Linked DNA regions of Homo sapiens. The protein of the gene in region 1 interacts with the protein of each later gene in a pairwise test. Each region holds a gene or a part of one and is shown in the gene's direction. Other genes may lie near its edges.

Region 1 (2,441 bases):
AACAGCTTGCATATAATTTTAAATAAAATACCCCCTCTCTCATCTCCTCCTGGGATTAAGGGAAGATCCTTGGTTATCTCTGCTTGGGCAGTGAGTTGCTGTGTGATCCACTTGTTTGATGCTTCATCCTTCTCTAAGGAGCTGAAAGTCATCTTGCTTTGACAATTGTTGCAAAAGTGTTATATTTTCAAGTTGTTGTTTGTTGGATTATGAACATTTAAAAACTAGTTTGTATAAATGGAATTGGCAAGTTTATCTGCCTAAGATACAATTTCAGAGTAGAAGGTGAATAAGCTCTTTGGTGGCTCCTTCCAGTGTGGTGTGTCCACAGGGTCATTTACTGGGGCTTCCCACTGGCTTACATCCCTCCCGCTCCAGCCTCAAGTTCACCTGCGTGCTGTTCTCTTCCACTAGGAAAACGCTGCCGCGGTCCACAGTGTCGATTCTGGATGACCACATTAGCCACTATCCACAGCTAGAGGATCCCATGGGCTTCTTGAATGCATATATGGGCTTCATCAACTCCTTCTGAGCTGGAAAGAGTAGCTTCCCTGTATTACCTCCCCTACTCCCTTATGTGTTGTGTATTCCACTTAGGAAGAAATGCCCAAAAGAGGTCCTGGCCATCAAACATAATTCTCTCACAAAGTCCACTTTACTCAAATTGGTGAACAGTGTATAGGAAGAAGCCAGCAGGAGCTCTGACTAAGGTTGACATAATAGTCCACCTCCCATTACTTTGATATCTGATCAAATGTATAGACTTGGCTTTGTTTTTTGTGCTATTAGGAAATTCTGATGAGCATTACTATTCACTGATGCAGAAAGACGTTCTTTTGCATAAAAGACTTTTTTTTAACACTTTGGACTTCTCTGAAATATTTAGAAGTGCTAATTTCTGGCCCACCCCCAACAGGAATTCTATAGTAAGGAGGAGGAGAAGGGGGGCTCCTTCCCTCTCCTCGAATGACGTTATGGGCACATGCCTTTTAAAAGTTCTTTAAGCAACACAGAGCTGAGTCCTCTTTGTCATACCTTTGGATTTAGTGTTTCATCAGCTGTTTTTAGTTATAAACATTTTGTTAAAATAGATATTGGTTTAAATGATACAGTATTTTAGGTATGATTTAAGACTATGATTTACCTATACATTATATATATTTTATAAAGATACTAAACCAGCATACCCTTACTCTGCCAGAGTAGTGAAGCTAATTAAACACATTTGGTTTCTGAATAAATTGAACTAAATCCAAACTATTTCCTAAAATCACAGGACATTAAGGACCAATAGCATCTGTGCCAGAGATGTACTGTTATTAGCTGGGAAGACCAATTCTAACAGCAAATAACAGTCTGAGACTCCTCATACCTCAGTGGTTAGAAGCATGTCTCTCTTGAGCTACAGTAGAGGGGAAGGGATTGTTGTGTAGTCAAGTCACCATGCTGAATGTACACTGATTCCTTTATGATGACTGCTTAACTCCCCACTGCCTGTCCCAGAGAGGCTTTCCAATGTAGCTCAGTAATTCCTGTTACTTTACAGACAGGAAAGTTCCAGAAACTTTAAGAACAAACTCTGAAAGACCTATGAGCAAATGGTGCTGAATACTTTTTTTTTAAAGCCACATTTCATTGTCTTAGTCAAAGCAGGATTATTAAGTGATTATTTAAAATTCGTTTTTTTAAATTAGCAACTTCAAGTATAACAACTTTGAAACTGGAATAAGTGTTTATTTTCTATTAATAAAAATGAATTGTGACAAAAGTGGACTCTGGCTTCCCCTCCCCCCTCCCCCCCACCCCTCTGGGATAAAAATTTTCCAGCATTGCCAGGAGCTTTCAGGTACACATTAAAGAATAAAATGAAGTTAAGCAGCTGGAGTATAGGATAGTATTTGATTTTCAAGATCACCCAAAGCTGCACTATCGTCCCAAAGCTGACCAAGTAGAATAAAAAGAAAAAAAAAAAAAAACAACCCATGCGCAAAGATAGACATTTGCTTGATCTGCTGGCTCAGGGCCAAATGTTTAATTTGCTTCTCCAAAGTCATTCATCTTCAAAAGTCTGATTCTGGGAAACTGATGCCACTAGCCTAAAAGCCCACTGACCATGTAGTGTGCATCAGTTTCCTCTTGTCCAGTAAGCATTTATCCAACAGAAGCTAAGATAACATCTACAGGTGTTCTCTCTTTACTTCTGACAGTCACCTGCATGGTCACTCCATCGGCTAAGGCCAGCCTGGACCTCACCAATAAATCATAGCCACCTCTGAATATACCTGAGAGAAAAAAGTAAGGAAAACCATATTAAGAACCCAAAACAAGCACTGGATAATGAAATTTATCATGCTATCCCTGCATCTCCTTTCTATTAGTTTAGTTTAGCTTTTCCAGAGACTTGTGGAAACTGAATCCTAAACAAACATAAATTCCAAATA
Region 2 (4,158 bases), on another chromosome or scaffold:
CACTTGAACCAGGGAGGTGGAGGTTGCAGTGAGCCAAGACCACGCCATTGCACTCCAGTCTGGGCCACAGAGTGAGACTTCATTTCAAAAAAAAAAAAAAAAAAATTAAACCCTCTGGGCATGATGGCTCACACCTGTAATCCCAGCACTTTGGGAGGTGGGAGGATTGCTTGAGATCAGGAGTTCAAGACCATCCTGGGTAACAAAGCAAGACCCCCATCTCTACAAAAAAATTTAAAAAATTAGCCAGGCATGGTGGCATGCGCCTGTGGCCCCAGCTACTTGGGAGGTTGAGGTGAATTGCTTGAGTCCAGGAGGTTGAGGGTACAGTGAGCTATGATCGTGCCACTGCACTTCAGCCTGGGTAACAGAGCAAGACCCTGTCTCAAATAAGTAAATAAATAAACAAACAAACCCTTAAAAGCCCACACAACATAGCACGAGCTGGTACAGAGGCAGCTGGGCCCATCTTACTGTGTGAAGCTGTGCACCTCAGGGGATTCTGGTGAGCCAAAGACAGTGGCATGGGGACGTTTCCTAGGGAAACTTCCTGGAATCTGATTCCAGGACTGGGCCCCTGGCCCTTTTCCTGACACCCAGCCCCCATGCCTGCCCAAGAGAAATGGTTCCTTCCCCCAGAAAGTAAAGCACAGTCTCTGTCCTCTCTATTTGAGGCCTTACTTCTCAGGGTCTAAAGGGAAATGGTGCCTGAGAGGCAGAATCTGCAGCTGCCAGGCGTGTTTGAGAACTTAGAACCCCATTTATAGCTGGATCACACCCTCTATCCCCAAGCTGAAATGGGCCTGGAAGAATCGGATTAACCAACTTCTTCCCAAGGTGTGGGGCATCCGGATTGGGGGGAGTTCCCAGCCTGTTTCCCAAGTTCACTCTTAGGGAGAGAGTTCTGTGCCAGTCTTGGGGGGACCCAGAGGGCCCTTGACTAGGAGTCCCTAAATGAATTCAGGGTCCCTCAGGAGACAATAACCTTCAGAAACCCCGAGTGCTAAAATAAATGGTCCTGCCCTCTCCACCCTGCAAAATGCCCTTCTTTCTACCTGTGAGGACAACTGCAGTGCTCGCTTTGAAATTTCAAATAACACAATCTTTCCACAAAATGCATCTTCCATTTTTCTGTTTTGGTGGCTCTGCCTTGCTGGCATCATGAACGCGTCCTGGGTAAAGCCATCCTCATGAGCTGGCATTGCGGCTCTGGGAGTCACCTCCCGGCCAAGAGCAGGTGCAACCCAGGCTCGAGACTCCACACCCGGAACCCTCAAAACCGGGAACGCTGTAGGGCTGCGGCTGCATGGGGAATGGGATCTGGGAGGGACTTCCTGTCTTCCCTACTCCCAGTCTCCACCCAACTCCCCCGCCCGCCCCGTGCAGGCTGTGGAGACTCCCTTCCCGGGGGAGGGGGCCCCCACTGCCGCAGGTGCCCCCTCTGCCTCCACCCCGGTGAGAAGGGGGTGCTGGGGAGGGCATCTGGATCCCGAGACCGGCGCAGATGATCAGCTTGCAGGAGGGGATGGGGTCAAAGGTGGAAGGCTTCAAGCTGGCAGGAGAGAAGGGGGCCAGGACCGGGTTTGGGAAGGAGAAGGACATTGTCTGCCAGGACCGAGAGCAGGATGGGCATCCCAGGCCTGGGGCAGGTGGTTGCAGCTGCAGGGGGGCTGCTGAGAGCGGGCAGGTTGATTTCTGAATTCCTGGTGGGCATGGGAGTCAGGTAGGGACACACGGTGTATGTCCTGGGGTCGGGGGACAGCAGGTCCTGGATTACCCTGGCCTTGACGGGCGGGGCCCCACCAGCACCTGTTCTGCAGGATCTCTGCAGAACTTTCTGCTCCTGATGACAGGAAATAGCGATTCCAATTTAGCCTCGGCTTTCCCTGAGCCGGTTACACTGAGATGCGAGGCTCTTGCTTCAGCAATAAAGGGGACAATACAAAATAGCATTCTTTCAAAAATAGGACCCAGAAAACATCACAGAGAGTGGGACCATCGGATAGGATCTGGGAGACTTTCTTTCCGATTGGGACCAGGGAGCGCTGGTACTCGTGGGGATTTTCAGGGCTCTTTGGGGGTGTCCAGGAAGCGAGGGCTGGTTTCTGTCTGCTCTTCTAGGCTCCTGGCCAGAAGCTGGAGGGGGCTTGGCCAAAAAGAGGGAGAAACAACTCAGCTGTTCTTTCTAGCTCTGAAATAGAAAATGTCTGCAGACGGCGGAGGCATCCAGGACACCCAGGACAAGGAGACACCCCCGGAGGTACAGATGGGGCTGGCTGAGGGAGGTGTGCGGTAGAAGAGGCTGGTGCGGAGGAGATTTTCAAGGCACAGAGTCTGGACCCCTGGAAGAGTTAGACTCACTGGGGTGGGGAGATCAAAGAGAAGGTGGCATGCTGGGTAGTACCCTCTGTCTGGAATTTACAGCATAACAGTTTTGCTTTGCTGGTGAATTCTCTAGCCAGTGGCCACAGGAGATGGAAGAGGTCTGGGTGGAGGTCCTATCAGTGAGGTTTTCTTTCTGAGCAGCGCTCAGAGCACACAGGGAAACCTGTTCTCCTTCCCCGTGCTTCTCCACCTGGAACCACAGCTTCTCATCTCTGTGGGTCTGAGCTCCCGGTCCTTTCTCCTTCCTGTACCTGCTACCCGTGTGTGTGTGCGTGCGTGGTTGAGTGTGTGTGTGTAATTACTATTTGTGGGGGACCTGGGTCTCCGGGCTTGGAGTTGGAGGAGTATGAGTCAGCGACAGGCCAGGGGCCAGTCCCTGGCCTCTGGGAACCAGATGTGTCATCTGTAAAATGCAGACCACATGCCTGCCATTTCCACCTGTCTCGCAGGGTCACTGGGAGGCTCTAAGGATAATAGGCATGAGACGCCATCATCTATGGTTTTCATGCCATAGAAGCACAAAGAATTGTTAGCATGGTTCAGTTTCCCATCCACTTCCCGTGTGCCTTGAACACCTTGGGCATGTCAGTAGAGCCCCACATGTTGGCATTCTCTGCTGGCACTGGCTTCTGTCTGGTGCGCACGGCGGGGGGGATTAATGACCAGCGCCACCCTGTGTTTATCCAGGACTTTCCTGAGCTGGCAGCTCCTTCTCCATCATTATCTGCGTGAACCTCATGACCATTCTGTGCAGGGGCAGAGCAGCTGCGTCCTGAAGGCTGCCTGATTGGGGAGGGGTGTCGCTGGGTCTGGCACCCAGGCACTCTGATTCCTGGCCTGAGGTTCTTTCCCTTCAAGACCCAAACACAGACAGGGCGTGGAGGAAGGAGTGTGAGACCCCAGCAGAAGTCCGGCCAGTTCCTGTGCTGTGGATGAGGCCCCACCAGGGCCCTCCCTGACTTTCCCAAAGCTTTTGAGCTATGTGGTCACGGGGCATTGTCTCATCCCCAGCCATGGTGTGTTAGTCTCCCGTGGCTGCTGTAACAAGTTTCCACTCTCTGGGGGGCTGAAAACAACCAGAATTGGCTCTCTCACAGTCCTGGAGGCCTGCAGTCCAAAATCTAGGTGTCAGCAGGGTCACACTCCTTTTGAAAGCTCTAGACTAAGAGGACCCTCCCTTACCTCTTCCAACTCCTTGGGGGCTCCTGGTGTCCTTGGTGTGGGCATCCCTCCAGTCTCTGCTTCCTTCTCTGTGTCTCTGTGTCCTCTCCTATTCTTATAAGGACATAAGTCATTGTTAGATTTTAGGCTCACTCTAAATTCACGATGATTTAATCTCAAGATCTTTAACTTACCTGTATAAAGACCCTTTTCCCCAATAAGGTCCCATTCTGAGGTCCAGGGAGGACACGGATTCTTAGAGGACACTATTCAAGCCACTACACTTGGTTTCTTCATACACTAATAGACAGCAGTCTACACTGCTGAGGTCAGTGTGAGGCTGGAGCTGAGAAGGGGTAGCTGCCCTTGGGCACCACGCCCACCGGCACTGTGGAGGCGGCTTGGTGAATATTCCTCCTCTTGCCGCCCGTCCTTGCTGGGGTGAGCTGGATGAATGCAGCAAGGACAGTCCTTCAAGCTGCGTCTTGCATGTTGGTTTCCGACGCTGCCGGAGCGCACTGCCATGTGGCCCTGGGTGTCTCTCCCACTCATCTGGGTGCTGATGGGGCTGTCCTTTCTAGGTTCCAGATCGTGGACATCCTCATCAGGAAA
Region 3 (3,202 bases), on another chromosome or scaffold:
GAAAGTGGGTTTCCTGGGCAGGCGCCATGGTTCATGCCTGTAATCCAGCACTTTGGGAGGCTGAGGCGGGGGGATCACGAGGTCAGGAGATCGAGACCATCCTGGCTAACACGGTGAAACCCCATCTCTACTAAAAATACAAAAAATTAGTCGGGCGTGGTGGCGGGCGCCTGTAGTCCCAGCTACTCGGGGGGCTGAGGCAGCAGAATGGCGTGAACCCGGGAGGCGGAGCTTGCAGTGAGAGGAGATCGCGCCACCGCACTCCAGCCTGGGCGACAGAGCGAGACTCCGCCTCAAAAAAAAAAAAAAAAGGAAAAGAAAGTGGGCTTCCTGGGCGCATGCTGGCCTTCCGGCCCCACCTGGAGGTCTCTTCTCTGCATTTTCTACCAGTTGAGGGCCCAACTTGGAGACGTGAAATTCTTCCCTCTCGAAGCCTTTCCTGATCTTTGCTCCTTTCTGTAACGTGACGTTTGTCATCGTTGTGCTTTCTTTATGTGAATGAATCTGAATGAATGAATTTCATAATCCGCTGCGCGTCTGCTGAGCAAAGTAATTATTAAAACGGAGTCTTTTCATTTTAGATGTGGACGAGTGCTCACTAGCAGAAAAAACCTGTGTGAGGAAAAACGAAAACTGCTACAATACTCCAGGGAGCTACGTCTGTGTGTGTCCTGACGGCTTCGAAGAAACGGAAGATGCCTGTGTGCCGCCGGCAGAGGCTGGTGAGTGGCACGGCTGCCCTCCACACAGGCTGCCCTCCCCTGGGCCGCAGGGCTTGCACGTAGACTGGCTGCTTGGTCTGAAATCCACACAGATGGTGGCCTTGAGATGGTGAGAGGGGGATTCCCGGAAGACAGGTGCATGACATCTCTGTGTGGGCACGCTTGCGCGAGAGGTACTGGCTTCCTGAGGATGAAGCCCCAGGTTCACAGCTCAAACGGAAGTTCAGGCGATGAAGGGGGAAGTCTCTGAAGCTCAGACCTCAGCGGGCGATGAGCAGAGGAGCAGACGCAGGAGAAGAGGCAGCTAAAGAGCTGGAAAAGTCATCCGGGGAAGCTGCCCAGGGTGCCGCAGAGACAGGGACAGGCAGGAAGTGGTGGAGGGCAAGCGGGTCCCCCACACCTGTTTCCTGGGGCTACCTTACCAAGAACCAGGAACTTAGGGCTCCAGCAACAGAAATGTGCCGCTCACAGGAGCCAGAAGTCAGAGGCCCAGACGCAAGCAGGCTGCTTCCTTGGGAGGCTGGGTGGGCGCGTCTGTTCCGGGCCTCTGTCCTCGCCTGGGGATGCCACCTGCTCCCCGTGTCTTCACGTGGTCTCCATGCGGGTGTCTGTCTCTGTCCAAACCTCCCCTCTTTGTAAGGACACCAGTCACTAATGCCCTCATGTTAACCTGGCCAGTGGTAAAGACCCTATTTCCAAACAAGGTCACAATCACAGGTACTGGGAGTAAAGACTTCAGCGTGTTTTGGGGGACATAAATCTGCCCGTGACAGTCCTCACAGAAGTCTAGAATATAGAGAGTGGGAAAGAAGCAGTGTTCAAGGAGATATTGGCTAAGGGTTTTTCAGAATGAATAAGGCACGATTCAGATTCCAGAAGCTGTTTCCTGAGCAGGACAAATAAAAGCAATTCCACATCTAGAAGCATCGTAGTAAACAGCAACAGCAAGACAGAACTGAGGGGTTAGCAGAGACGGACAGGCCAGAAGACAAGGCTGCCTGCTACCCCCTCGGTCCCCTCTGCCCTGGGCTGGCCCTGCCTCTTGCCCCTCCCTCCCCCCACCCTCGGTCCCCTCTTGCCCCTCCCTCCCACCACCCTGGGTCCCCTCTTGCCCCTCCCTCCCCCCACCCCGGGTCCCCTCTTGCCCCTCCCTCCCCCCCTCTTGCCCCTCCCTCCCCCCACCCCGGGTCCCCTCTTGCCCCTCCCTCCCCCCACCCCGGGTCCCCTCTTGCCCCTCCCTCCCCCCACCCCGGGTCCCCTCTTGCCCCTCCCTCCCCCCCGTCCCCTCATTCTCCTCCCTCCCCCCCACCCTCGGTCCCCTCTTGCCCCTCCCTCCCCGTACCACCCTCAGTCCCCTCTTTCTCCTACCTCCCCCACCCTCGGTCCCCTCTTTCTCCTCCCGCCACAACCATTGTTCAGGCTCCCATTCTGCCAGGCCGCAAGGAACCCCTTGCCGCTCCCAACTCTGCATCCTCCACACCCACGGCAGCGTGGGGGCTCTGAAATGCCGTCTGCCTCATCTCTCATCTGCTTTGTGGGAAACGGGGGTCTCCGAGCTGCCCTTGGATGGCTGCGTCCGGGGCTTTGAGCCAGGACTGGACGGGCAGGCCCTGCACATGCGCTGCTGTCCTGGGAAAGGCCTCATCCCCAGGGCCCTTTGTGCTCAGCCTTGACGACCTATGCTTGTTTTCTGACAGAAGCCACAGAAGGAGAAAGCCCGACACAGCTGCCCTCCCGCGAAGACCTGTAATGTGCCGGACTTACCCTTTAAATTATTCAGAAGGATGTCCCGTGGAAAATGTGGCCCTGAGGATGCCGTCTCCTGCAGTGGACAGCGGCGGGGAGAGGCTGCCTGCTCTCTAACGGTTGATTCTCATTTGTCCCTTAAACAGCTGCATTTCTTGGTTGTTCTTAAACAGACTTGTATATTTTGATACAGTTCTTTGTAATAAAATTGACCATTGTAGGTAATCAGGAGGAGAACGGGCGTGGGTTTGTCTCATTAATCAGGACGGACCTTTACCACTGAGTTTGCACCTGTCCTGCCAGAGCCGGGAGTGACCAGGGCTGCCGAGGTCCGCAGAGGCAGCAGGTCCGGTCCTGGGCTGGTGGCTCTGCTGTCCCTGAACAGGGCTCACGTGCCGCTTGGGGGAGGAGGGGAGGGCCCTGCCTTGGGCGAGAACCTGAAGACGTGACCAGGTGGGTTTCAGGGGTCCAACCTATGGGCCCTCTTCAGTGATTCAAAGGATGTACAAGCAGGGACCCTCAGGCAGGGGAAAAGCATCTTTGGGGGCTTCGCTGGAGGAAACAGCCACTCACAAACCGCAGGGCCTGCCCGTTCCTCATCTGGGAATGAAGACACTGCAAGAAGAAAGCTGGCTGCGGGTGAGAGGCTGCAGGCTCTGGGAGCTCCGTTCCGGGGGGCCATGGCCTCCTCCCTGGGCTCCTCATAGCCCCCAAGTCCCACTTGGCCTGGTCCC
Region 4 (3,500 bases), on another chromosome or scaffold:
TTAGAATCTTTTCAGGTTTATAAATTTTCTATGCATACCATAAACTTCTGGCATCTAGATTGATAGTGACTCAACTACATCAACAACCCAAGAATCCTAGAGACTTTACATCAGTTCTGGAGTCACAAGACTCCTGAATGCTTCAGTGGTACCCAAAATTTATTTAAACTGGAGAAGTATGGAGGGAACCACTAGTGGAACTCTTTAGCAATCATGAATTTGCATTTTGTTATTGTTTGGTGACAAGAACTGATATCTTAGGACATATTGTATTTCTGTATCAGACACCATTAATTTTAAGATTCACTATTGTTTAAGTGCGAGGAGAGGAACATATGCTTTCAATTAAACTATGACACATCAGGGATTATAAGACACATCCAGTTTTGGAGATGTTAAGATGTGAGGAAAATGTATCTTAGACTCAACAGATTATGGTAATTGAAGGGATATAAAAATGACATCAGAATTCTGGTCATTTCTCCTGACATGTTGCTATTTTATTATGTCCTAAATTTCTTTGTATTTTGATACAAGTGGTATTCAACAAGGTCAGCTGCATTGACTCATATTCTGGGGTCATATGCTTGACTCATATGCTTGGGGATACTGAAGTAACTGATTATTTTTGCAAGAAGTCCAGAGGACGATTTGGGACCAGAAGATGTGATTTTTAAAATTTGTTTACCTTTAAGTTTGGGTTAGTTCTTTCTTGGCATCTCTAGTCTGAAAAGGCTGCTACAAAAGCTTTAGATTTAATCTATATCCTTTGAATATTCTGGGCATCTGTCTGAAGTAAAATCCAGTGTTCTTAGTAACTAAATCACTTTCTGAGGCAGTAATTTTTTTGGTTCGTGGACCCACTTGATAATCTGTTGAAAGTTATAGACTTGTGCACCTATATAAAATATTCACATATAGTTTCTGGGAATTCAAGTATTTGGTGAGGTTCAAATATCTATATGATGTTAGCTGTGGGCTACATAAAAAAGTTTGTTCACCCAAAGACTCCCAGGGAATCCATGAGCACTTAAATAAGAAGTGCTGTTACAGCACAGTTATTATGCAGATAACATTTTAGTTAAACTTTTGGTGAGAAAAATAACTGGATAAAGTTGCACATAAAATTTAATAGTGCCATTGTTCATAGAATTTATCAGTAGATTTTTTTTGCTTCAATGAGTATGGATGATCCTTAACAAGTTGTTTACTTGATGAAGACCCTGAAAACCAAACCTTGAGAAAGGATTATGAAAAAACCTTTAAAAAGTACCAGGGGCTTGTGGTAAAACAGGAACAGCTATTACGAGGTATGAATTCCTAAGCAATGAGGAAAGCAACAAAGTACTTACTCCAAATACATTTGTTTTGTTCACTTTTTATCATACCTGTAAAGCTAATGTGAGAATAGCTGAAAGTTCTATAAATGTTAATATGCTACAAGTTCGTCTGTCTTTAGCATGGGTAATGTTTTAAATTTCACTCTACTATTTTTCCCCATTTAGTTCCTAAATGTTTGTATACTTATTATTTATTTCCTAAGAAAGGATTTTTTAATCCAGTGTGTGACCTTTTCAATAATATCAATCTTTGTCTCTTCAGCCCTAACTTACTTGTTTTATAAAGTGAATTATTTTGTTGCTTTCCTAGGAAATTGATATAAACATTTTAAAATATTTCTCTTGTTTAATAGAAAAGAATTCCTTGTCTCTAGCTTTATTAAGATATTTAAAACTTCAATAGTATGGTTTCTTGGTTACTGATAAGATGTAAAATCTTATGGTGGTTAGTGATAATGACATGGGGCTTTTAAGTGTGAATTTAAGTCCGGATTTATACTTGACTATTTGATGATTCATGTAGTTTATTGGTGTTTGACTAACTTTGTACATGGAAATACTTGTTAACTCCCAAAATATTTTCATCCTGTGAAGATTAGTAGCAATTTTAACTACACTGAGTTTTTTAAATATTTGAAGCCAAGTAATTTAGTTCAACCTGTTGGAGAAAATGTCAGATTTTCAAAGGTTCATTTTAAAATATGCTAGAAAATAATAGGTATTATCTGTGTTAGCATATAATCCAAAATGCATCAGATCTCAAGAAAGCAATTGTTTTCATGTAAAAGTTTCAAAGAACTAATTTGACTTTTTTAACATGCAAAACTTTAAGCTCTGTTTCTAACCAAATATTTATGCAAATATTGTATACTCTCTTAACAGCTTTATTGAGGTATAACTGATAGACAATAAACTGTATAGTTTTAAAGTATATAATTTGATAAATTTTAACATATGTAAATACCCATGAAATAATGACCATAATCAAGATAAGGTACATATCCATCACTCCCAAAATTTCCTCATGCATCTTTACAATCTCTCCCTTTCCTTCTTCCTTCTGCCTTCTTCCTCATTCCCAAGTCATCACTGATCTGCTTTCTGTCACTTTAGCTTAGTTTGCATTTTCTAGAGTTTTATATAAATGAAATCATATAGTATGTATGCATTTTTGTCTTTTACTCAGCATAATTAAAGATTCATCCATATTATTGCATTTATCAATAGTTTATTCCTTTTTGTTATTGAATAGTATTTCCTTATATTCACCTGTTGATGATCATTAGAATATTTCCAGTTTTTGGCAATTTTAATGCTGCTGTGAACATTTTTCTACAAGTCTTTGTATGGACATACGCTTTCTTTTCTCTTAGTTAAATACCTAATGATGGAATGGCTGAGTCATAGGATAGGTGTATGTTTAACTTTGTAAGAAACTGCCAAATGTTTTTCTATAATAGTTGTTTTTATATTCTCACCATGAATGTATGTGGTTTTGATTTGAATTTCCCTAGTGACTGATTAATGTTGAGCATCTCCTGATGTGCTTATCTGCCATCTCTTTATGTTTATTGAAGTGTGCCTTCATAACTTTTGCCTTATTATTAAATTGGATAGTTTTGTATCCATTCTTTATATGTTTTGGATATAAGCATTTATCAGATACATGATTTGCAGAAATTTTTGTTCTCCTAAAGTATCTTTTTAAGAGCAGAATTTTACATTTTTATGAATTCCAACTTAGTGTTTTTTGGATCATGGTTTTGGTATTGTGTCTAAGAAATCCTTTCCTAACTAAAGGTTACAATTATTTTCTAATATGTTTTCTTCTAGAAGTTGTATAGTCTCAGAGTTTAGTTAAGGCTATAATATATTTTGAGTTAATTTTTGTATATGGGGTGAGGAATGGATCAAAGTTCTTCATTCTTTTTGCATATAAATAGCTAATTATTTAAGTACTACTTTTGAAAACACTATCTTTTATCTACTGAATTGATTTATATCTTTGTCAGAACCATTTGTCCAATGTGTCATGCCTATTTTTGGGTTTCTATTTTGTTCTATCCATCACTTTTGTGTGTTTTTGATGCCAATAGCACAGTGTCTTCATTACCATAGCTTATGGAAAATGTTGATATTGGGTGCTTTTAGCCCTACCAA

What was found. The genes of interacting proteins can lie anywhere in the genome.
Region 2: the proteins of MEST (region 1) and ZNF205 interact in a two-hybrid assay, tested with the Homo sapiens proteins (one large-scale study listed by BioGRID and IntAct).
Region 3: the proteins of MEST (region 1) and CRELD2 interact in a two-hybrid assay, tested with the Homo sapiens proteins (one large-scale study listed by BioGRID and IntAct).
Region 4: the proteins of MEST (region 1) and KIFAP3 interact in a two-hybrid assay, tested with the Homo sapiens proteins (one large-scale study listed by BioGRID and IntAct).

The regions. Positions count from the first base shown.
Region 1 is NC_000007.14:130,504,525-130,506,965, forward strand, and holds the end of MEST (mesoderm-specific transcript homolog protein), read left to right. Parts: intron 1-414; coding exon 415-532; 3' UTR 533-1,941; downstream 1,942-2,441. Other genes in the region: COPG2 (coatomer subunit gamma-2), read right to left, coding at 2,152-2,282.
Region 2 is NC_000016.10:3,111,228-3,115,385, forward strand, and holds the start of ZNF205 (transcriptional repressor RHIT), read left to right. Parts: upstream 1-1,358; 5' UTR 1,359-1,455; exon of another isoform or gene 1,456-1,723; intron 1,724-2,121; exon of another isoform or gene 2,122-2,189; 5' UTR 2,190-2,203; coding exon 2,204-2,260; intron 2,261-3,567; exon of another isoform or gene 3,568-3,660; intron 3,661-3,740; exon of another isoform or gene 3,741-4,127; coding exon 4,128-4,158.
Region 3 is NC_000022.11:49,924,836-49,928,037, forward strand, and holds the end of CRELD2 (protein disulfide isomerase CRELD2 isoform b precursor), read left to right. Parts: intron 1-581; coding exon 582-722; coding exon of another isoform or gene 723-835; exon of another isoform or gene 836-1,733; intron 1,734-2,419; coding exon 2,420-2,472; 3' UTR 2,473-2,702; downstream 2,703-3,202. UniProt on the Homo sapiens protein: Protein disulfide isomerase. Might play a role in the unfolded protein response. May regulate transport of alpha4-beta2 neuronal acetylcholine receptor.
Region 4 is NC_000001.11:170,029,696-170,033,195, reverse strand, and holds part of KIFAP3 (kinesin-associated protein 3), read left to right. Parts: intron 1-1,211; coding exon 1,212-1,310; intron 1,311-3,500. UniProt on the Homo sapiens protein: Involved in tethering the chromosomes to the spindle pole and in chromosome movement. Binds to the tail domain of the KIF3A/KIF3B heterodimer to form a heterotrimeric KIF3 complex and may regulate the membrane binding of this complex.